2 linked regions of the Homo sapiens genome follow. The protein of the gene in region 1 interacts with the protein of each later gene in a biochemical or structural test. Each region holds a gene or a part of one and is shown on either strand. Other genes may lie near its edges.

The links. Proteins that work in one complex are often made in the same cells at the same time.
Region 2: the proteins of ARCN1 (region 1) and COPA form a complex in vitro, tested with the Homo sapiens proteins (one study listed by BioGRID).

Annotation. Positions count from the first base shown.
Region 1 is NC_000011.10:118,575,264-118,579,018, reverse strand, and holds part of ARCN1 (coatomer subunit delta), read right to left. Parts: exon of another isoform or gene 2,121-3,755; intron 1-2,120. UniProt on the Homo sapiens protein: Component of the coatomer, a cytosolic protein complex that binds to dilysine motifs and reversibly associates with Golgi non-clathrin-coated vesicles, which further mediate biosynthetic protein transport from the ER, via the Golgi up to the trans Golgi network.
Region 2 is NC_000001.11:160,336,625-160,340,379, reverse strand, and holds part of COPA (coatomer subunit alpha), read left to right. Parts: intron 1-85; coding exon 86-199; intron 200-397; coding exon 398-471; intron 472-3,755. UniProt on the Homo sapiens protein: The coatomer is a cytosolic protein complex that binds to dilysine motifs and reversibly associates with Golgi non-clathrin-coated vesicles, which further mediate biosynthetic protein transport from the ER, via the Golgi up to the trans Golgi network.

The sequences.
Region 1 (3,755 bases):
ACTTGTAGCACATATATTCATGATGTAAAACAGCACCATTAGTAATAATAAACATGCATCTCATGAAAAAAATTTATGCCACTTCAAGGTAATGGATTTTTCTTTTTTTATTAAAAAAAAAAAAAAAAAAAAAAAAAAAAAAAAGAGAGACGGGGTTTTGCCATGTTGCCCAGGCTACAAATTCCTGGGCTAAAGTGATCCGCACACCTCAGCCTCCCAAAGTGCTGGGATTACAAGTGTGAGCCACAGCATCCGGCCAAGGCAATGGATTTTTGCCTTTGTCAATATTTTGATATTCAAATAATGAATATTGACTCTCCCCCCAAAATTTTACATACAGTTTCAGGGAATGCATCGATCCTCTAGAGAAGTTATTTCAAATGGCCCATAGAAAATCCCCTCATGCGATGAGAAATATTATTAATAAATGGGAGCATATTGTAAATGTAATCCCTGTAGAGCCTCCTATCCCTAAAAGGTTGAGAGTCATAGCTCTAGGAAGTCATGGTCCTCTATGTTAGAATTTTATGAGGTTTTGAAGAAATAAGACAAATCAAATGAACACCTAAAGAAAGGACAGCTCAGACCAAAACTTCAGACCTATATAAACATGCTGCATTTAATAGAAACCCCATATCTAATAATAAACCTGTTAGAAACAATGTTTACAGGCTCAAGGGTAGTTCTTAGGTTTCCAACTGGAGTTAAAAACACCTCTATACCATACAAGTAAAATTTAGGTAAAAACATCAAAAGCAACTTGAGAGGGAAAAAGGAACAAAAAGGTGTATGTTACTATCCACTTTATTTATTTATTTATTTATTTATTTATTTATTTATTTATTTATTTATTTTTTGAGAGAGTGTCTCACTCTGTAGTCCAGGCTGGAGTGCAGTGGTGCCATCTTGGCTCACTGCAAGCTCTGCCTCCTGAGTTCAAGCAATTCTCATGCCTCAGCCTCCTGAGTAACTGGGACTACAGGCACAGGCCAGCACCACCAAGCCTGGCTAATTTTTCTATTTTTAATAGAGACAGGGTTTTGCCATGTTGGGCAGGCTGGTCTCCAACTCCTGGCCTCAAGTCATCTGCGCGCCTTGGCCTCCAAAGTGTTGGGATTACAGGAGTGAGCCACTGCACCTGGCCCATCCACTTTACTGATGAGCATGTTCAAAAACTAATTATAGGTACTGGTAATCTCCATTTTTGCGATATTATAAGAATTAACTGAGTAATTATTTATCGAACATCTACTATACATACAACATGCTTTCTGAGAATTAAGATGACACAGGCTAGCATTCTGCCTACAAGAAGCTTAATAGGGATAAGACACAAACACAAATAACTGTAATATGAGGCAGAATGTGTTAAGTAACATGAGAGAGTAACCGATAAAGTGCGTGGAAATTCAGAGGAAGAGATTACTTCCAGCTGGTACAGTCAGGGATGACTTGATAGAAGAAACAGCATTTAGGCCGGGAGCGGTGGCTCATGCCTTAATCCAGCACTTTGGGAGCCAGGGCAGGCAGATCACCTGAGGTCAGGAGTTCGAGACCAGCCTGGTCAACATGGGAAAACCCTGTCTCTACCAAAAAATACAAAAAATTAGCCAAGTCTGGTGGTGCACGTCTGTAGTCCCAGCTACGGGGAGAGTGAGGTGGGAGGATTGCTTGAACCTGGGAGGCGGAAGTTGCAGTAAGCCAAGATCATACCACTTCACTCCAGCCTGGGCTACAAAGTGAGACTCTGCCTCAAAAAAAAAAAAGAAAGAAAGAAAGAAAGAAACAGAATTTAGATCATGCTTTGATGAATTCCAGGATTTGTTTGTTTTGAAACAGAGTCTTGCTCTATTGCCCAAGCTGTAGTGCAGTGGCGTGATCTTGGCTCAGTGCAGCCTCAACCTTCTGGGCTCAGGTGATTCTCCCACCTCAGCCTCCCAAGTATCTGGGACTACAGGCACAGGCCACCACACCTGGCTAATTTTTTGTATTTTTCTGTAGAGACAGGGTTTTGCCATGTTGCCCAGGCTGGTCTCAAACTCCCAACCTCAAGTGATCTGCCCGCCTGAGCCTCCCAAAGTGCTGGGATTACAGGCATGAGCCGCCACACCTGGCCAGAATTCCAGGCTTTCAGTACGTCAAGATGAAGAAAGAAGTAGGGTAAAATCATATGTCTCTCTTTGAGTCATTCCATTATCCAGATACAAGCAAAACAAGGCTTCCAAAATAGGACCATAGTTCCCCATACTAAGTATAGCATAAATCTCCGAACACCCAGGACACCACAAATTACAGGTTCCAGGCAGTTGACACAGGTCTCTCTGTTACAGCTACTAATATGGCTAGAAGGTATGGTCACCTCTAAACATGATAAATTTATCCTATCCTAAATTAACATTTGTCTTCTTAAAGTTCTTGAAATAATAAACCTCTTTACATTAATGTTTACTGGTTTAACAATTATTAAAATATAGCATATACTAAAAGGTAAGTTAACAATTTTCCCTATTGAAATTTGATCTGATTTTCTCTGAGGAAGAATTAATAAATATGATTACAAAGTTTTTGGTTTTTTTTTTTTTTTTTTTTTTTAACATTTTTGGAAAAAACATTCCAGATCTAAAAGGAACTTGCAAGAGCCCTTGATTGTCTTACAGATGTGAAAACTGAGGGCCCATAAGTTAGATGATCTCTCCAGGACGGTTAAAAAAAAAAAAAATTCCCTCATAAAGTTGAGCTTTGCCAAACAACTTTTAATAATTCTTACATGGTTTGAGTACACTATCTTTGGACTAAATAACAACTCTCTCCTACACAGACTTAACTACATGAATTGTTAAGTGCCTCAAGTAAAAAAACCTGGAGAATTAGGTTTCTGTTCTGCCTTTGCCACTAATTATGTGACCTTGGATAAGTCACTTAATTGATTATTGAAATATCCCTAACATAGGAGGTTAGTTTACATGAAATCCAAAGTGCTCTGTGTCTTTAAAGTTCTGTAAGTCTAAGCATTTGAAAACTACAGTAACAGAAAAAAAAAAAAACAACTACAGTGACAGAAAATGTACAATACTTCCATTTTATACCCACTGCTCCAGTTCTAACCACTTTGGAACAATATTTTATAGTAACATTAGGCTGCCAGAAGGCAAATTGTCTAACCATAACAAATTGTGTGTGCAAGAGAGATACAAGAATAACAGGTGGTATAATAATTCAGGATAAATATGCACAACTCTCTCTCAAAAAAAGTCAAGTTCTTTCTTGAATCTCTAAATGCTTCAGGATCCCTTACTTCCAGAATTATAGTCACCTTCTCCTTTGTAATTCACCGCAATATTTTATACACATATACATGCACACACAATTCATGGTCATATTAAGGCTAGTTTCTATAATTGTCAGGGAGGACTGTTCTGTCTTTTCTATTTATATGAAGCTATTATAGATAAAATCAGAGAGAAGATTACAATAAAATGTAGACCACATACGAAACCTAAAACTTGAAAAGTAATTTACTCAGTGAGGGTTTTAAGTCCATCACATTTCTATTCTAAAACAAAAGCTTGCAGAGAATTAAAACACACACACACACACACACACACACCCGTTATCAGTTTCTGCAGTGAACTTCTATATGAAGACATAAATAGATGGCAAATCAATGGAAACTCAAGAGAATCATTTTCTTTCTTTGCTGTCCCTCAAAACACAATTAAAAAGATACATAAATAATACAGGGGCCGGGCGCCATG
Region 2 (3,755 bases), on another chromosome or scaffold:
GATGTTTCTTTTTCTTATCAGAATTGACAGAAGGTGACATCATGGGGCTTAGTTAGCTCATTGTATCATTTTCTATTTTTTTCAGGGCTCAGCTTTCACCCCAAAAGACCTTGGATCCTGACTAGTTTACATAATGGGGTCATCCAGTTATGGGACTATCGGATGTGCACTCTCATTGACAAGTTTGATGAACATGATGGTGAGATATTTCTAGGAGGAAGTTAAAGGAGTATAAGTATTTATAATATCCTGGGGTATTTTAAGCCTTGTTTGACATGGATTCCTCTATGATTAAAGAATGTGGAAATGATAGAACTGAAAAATCCTGAATAGGAATCACCTTAGAGATTAGAAAGGATAGCTCTGTCTAACATACATTGCCTGCCTTCTCCACCAGGTCCAGTGCGAGGCATTGACTTCCATAAGCAGCAGCCACTGTTCGTCTCTGGAGGAGATGACTATAAGATTAAGGTACAGAGGGTCTGTCATAACTGAGAATAAAGGAAAGAGGATGTGGGAAGGTTTGGGAATCATGAAAGGAACTGAAAGACAGGAAATTTCATTCATACAGAGCTCAGGCCTTTGACAACATTATCCGGAGAACTTACTCAGCAAACATTTATTGAATGCTTACTGTGTACCAGACACTGTTTTCTTTTTAGGGAATTCAAAAATAAATAAGAAATGGCTTCTGTTTTCAAGGAGCTTTTATTCTAATACAGAAGATAAACATATATCCAAGTAATAGCATGTACAGTTTGGTAAGCAATATAATAGAGAGATATTCACAGTGAAATAGGAAAGAGCAGTATAGGTGCAAAGACAAAAAGCATGACACAGCTAGATACAGGGCAGCTGTTATTGGTTTTGTATGGAGAAAACCTGGAGAAATGGTGAGAGAAGGGGCAGAAGATGAGAGGGGCCAGATCATGGAGTACCTGTTTGTGGCGCTCAGGAGTTTAGATGTTATCATGCAGATAACTAGGAGCCATTTGAGGAACTTAAATACAGGAGTGATACCAGATTTATATGTTTTTAAAATGATTACTTGGTGGTAATTAAAGAAAAGATTGGATGATTTGGGCAAGACAGGAGGCAAAAATACCAGTTAGGAAACCTGAGCTTAGGTAGTAGCATTTGAAATGGAGAGAAGGAGATGGATGTGAGAATTTAAGGAAATGAATCAGTGTGTCTGTTGGGTGATGGCCAATAAGGAGAAATAAATGAGATGGCCAATAAGGAGAAATAAGGGCCAATAAGGAGAAATAAATGAGCTGACTTTCAGGCTTCTAGTTTAGGTCACTGGGTAAAGGGGGTGTCATTAACTAGGAAAGGAAAATCAGGAGGAGATAGTTTTCTGGAGTGGAAGAGAATGGATAATGAATTCCATCTTGTCTCTGGTGATTTTGAGGGACCTAAGGGACAGTCTAGTTGAGGTGTCTGTGCTAGAAATATATTTGTGATTTGTCGTCATGAAGGGAGGAGCCAAAGGAGAAGCAGTAGAAGATATTGCTCAAGGAGTACGTTGAATAAGAAGACAGACCATCATTTAAGGGAGAGAGAGGAAGTAGAGTTAGTATGGGAAACAGTGATTCGAGGGGTTCGAGATGAACCAAGAGGGAGAAGAAGCCTCTTGGATGCCAAGGAAGAAGAGAATTTTGGGAAGGAGAAAGTGTTCAGAATAAGATCAAGATTGAGAAATAACCTTTGAATTGCTTAATTTGGAAGGCCTTAGTGTGAAATGAGGAAGCAGACAGAATATAGGCAATTCTTTAAAGACAACTGACTATCATAATAGCAAAAGTTAGAGCCAGAGACTAGCAACCTATAAAAATAAATCAAAATTTCCTCTGTTTACTTCCTTTAGTTGTTTTCATTAAGTCTATGTGTCAAACCGAACCAGTGAAATTTAATTCATAAAAAGGTAAAGTCTTTTCATAAGCAACTTCAAGAAGTTATATATTGTGATTATACCGCAGAACTTAGGTGATGGGAGTAAAGAGTGACAGCTGCCTACAGAGAAAAGAGCTATTAGAATTATAGGAAGGACATTTCTTTCTGTTTTCTAGTTTTTAGGCACCACATCCTGGGGCAATCAAAACTCAAACCACCTGACAGATCTCAAAAGCCCATAAGGATATCACCTCATTATAGTATTTTTGTATTTGTTATTTATAGTGATGAACATTGAGTATCAAGAATGGTTAACTTGGGATTCTTATAATCTGTTTAAAAAGGAAAAACTGGGTGTTAATTAAGAAAAAGTTTTCCCAAAATGACTAATATTTTGGAAAAGAAATTATCTTCCACTTATGAAATGTCCAGAATAGGTAAATCTATAGAGACAGAAAGTAGGTTAGTGATTGTCTAGGGTTGGAGGGGTTGGGAGGAAATGAGAAGTGACAGCTAATGGGTATGAATTTCTTAGGGGAGTGAATAAAAATGTTCTAAAATGGATGGTTGCACAACTGTGAATATATTAAAAGCCATTGAGTTTTATACTTTATATGAATAAATTGTATGGTATTTGAACTGTATCTCAATAAAGCTGTTATTAAAACAAAGGAATTCTTTATTAGCTGGTAGGTGTGTAGTGCTATCATTTGGTGGGTTTTTTTGGTTTGTTTTTTGTTTGTTTGTTTGTTTGTTTGTTTGTTTTTTGCGATGGAGTCTTGTTCTGTTGCCCAGGCTGGAGTGCAGTGGCGTGATCTCGGCTCACTGCAGCCTCCACCTCCCGGGTTCAAGTGGTTCTCCTGCCTCAGCCTCCCGAGTAGCTGGAATTACAGGCATGCGCCACCAAGCCCGGCTAATTTTGTATTTTTAGTAGAGATGGGGTTTCTCCATGTTGGTCAGGCTGGTCTTGAACTCCCGACCTCGGGTCGTCTTCCTGCCTCGGCCTCCCAAAGTGCTGGGATTACAGGCGTGAGCCACCGCACCCGGCCCATTCGGTGGTTTTAATTAATTTCTCTGATGACTAATAAACTTGAACATTTTTCCATAAAAAGGGGGATTATCTAGAAAAGTCATGTCTGTGGACCATCTTATTGCTTGCTATATCCAGATAAATGTAGCATTAGTTATAATCCTCGTTGACAAAGAGTAAGACAAGGAGCCCAGCAAATGGTCAGAGTATTCATCTAAAACCCCTATAAGTTTTTAAGGATTTACAGTTTTGGAGCTTGACTTAGGCCATTAAAGGAGTCAAGACATTTTGAAACTAGAAATATGAAAGTTTAAAACACTGAACTCTATAAGGGGAAAAAAGTCAGTTAAAGAATAGTGTTTATGGTATGGTCTAATTTTTATGTGAAACTCTACTGTGTACATGTGTATTTATATGTAGCTGATTGAATAGATAGAGGCAAAGGTATTGGAATACCTTAACTTTTCATGTTATTCTTATTTCCATACATAATGCTTACTGAGCACTTACCTAATGTCAGGCACTGTGTTAGGTGGTAAGGGTATAGTGTTGAGCATGATGGACAAGAACCCTGCCTTTAAGGAACTCAGCATTCTTGTTTGGAAGATCATACTTTTGGATTGTCTGGACTTGTTATAGGAAATGAAATTTTTATAATTTACTGAAGAAAAGTTAAAAATTAGAAATAGTAACAAGCTGGCCCAGATTGATTATAAACAAATATTAAAAAGAAATTTAAAAAAATTAAATAAGAAGAAAAATGCATCTGGTCTCTTATTTTTGTACATTTTAGGGGATTTTCTGAATGAGGAAGATAAGCTATTTTATATTT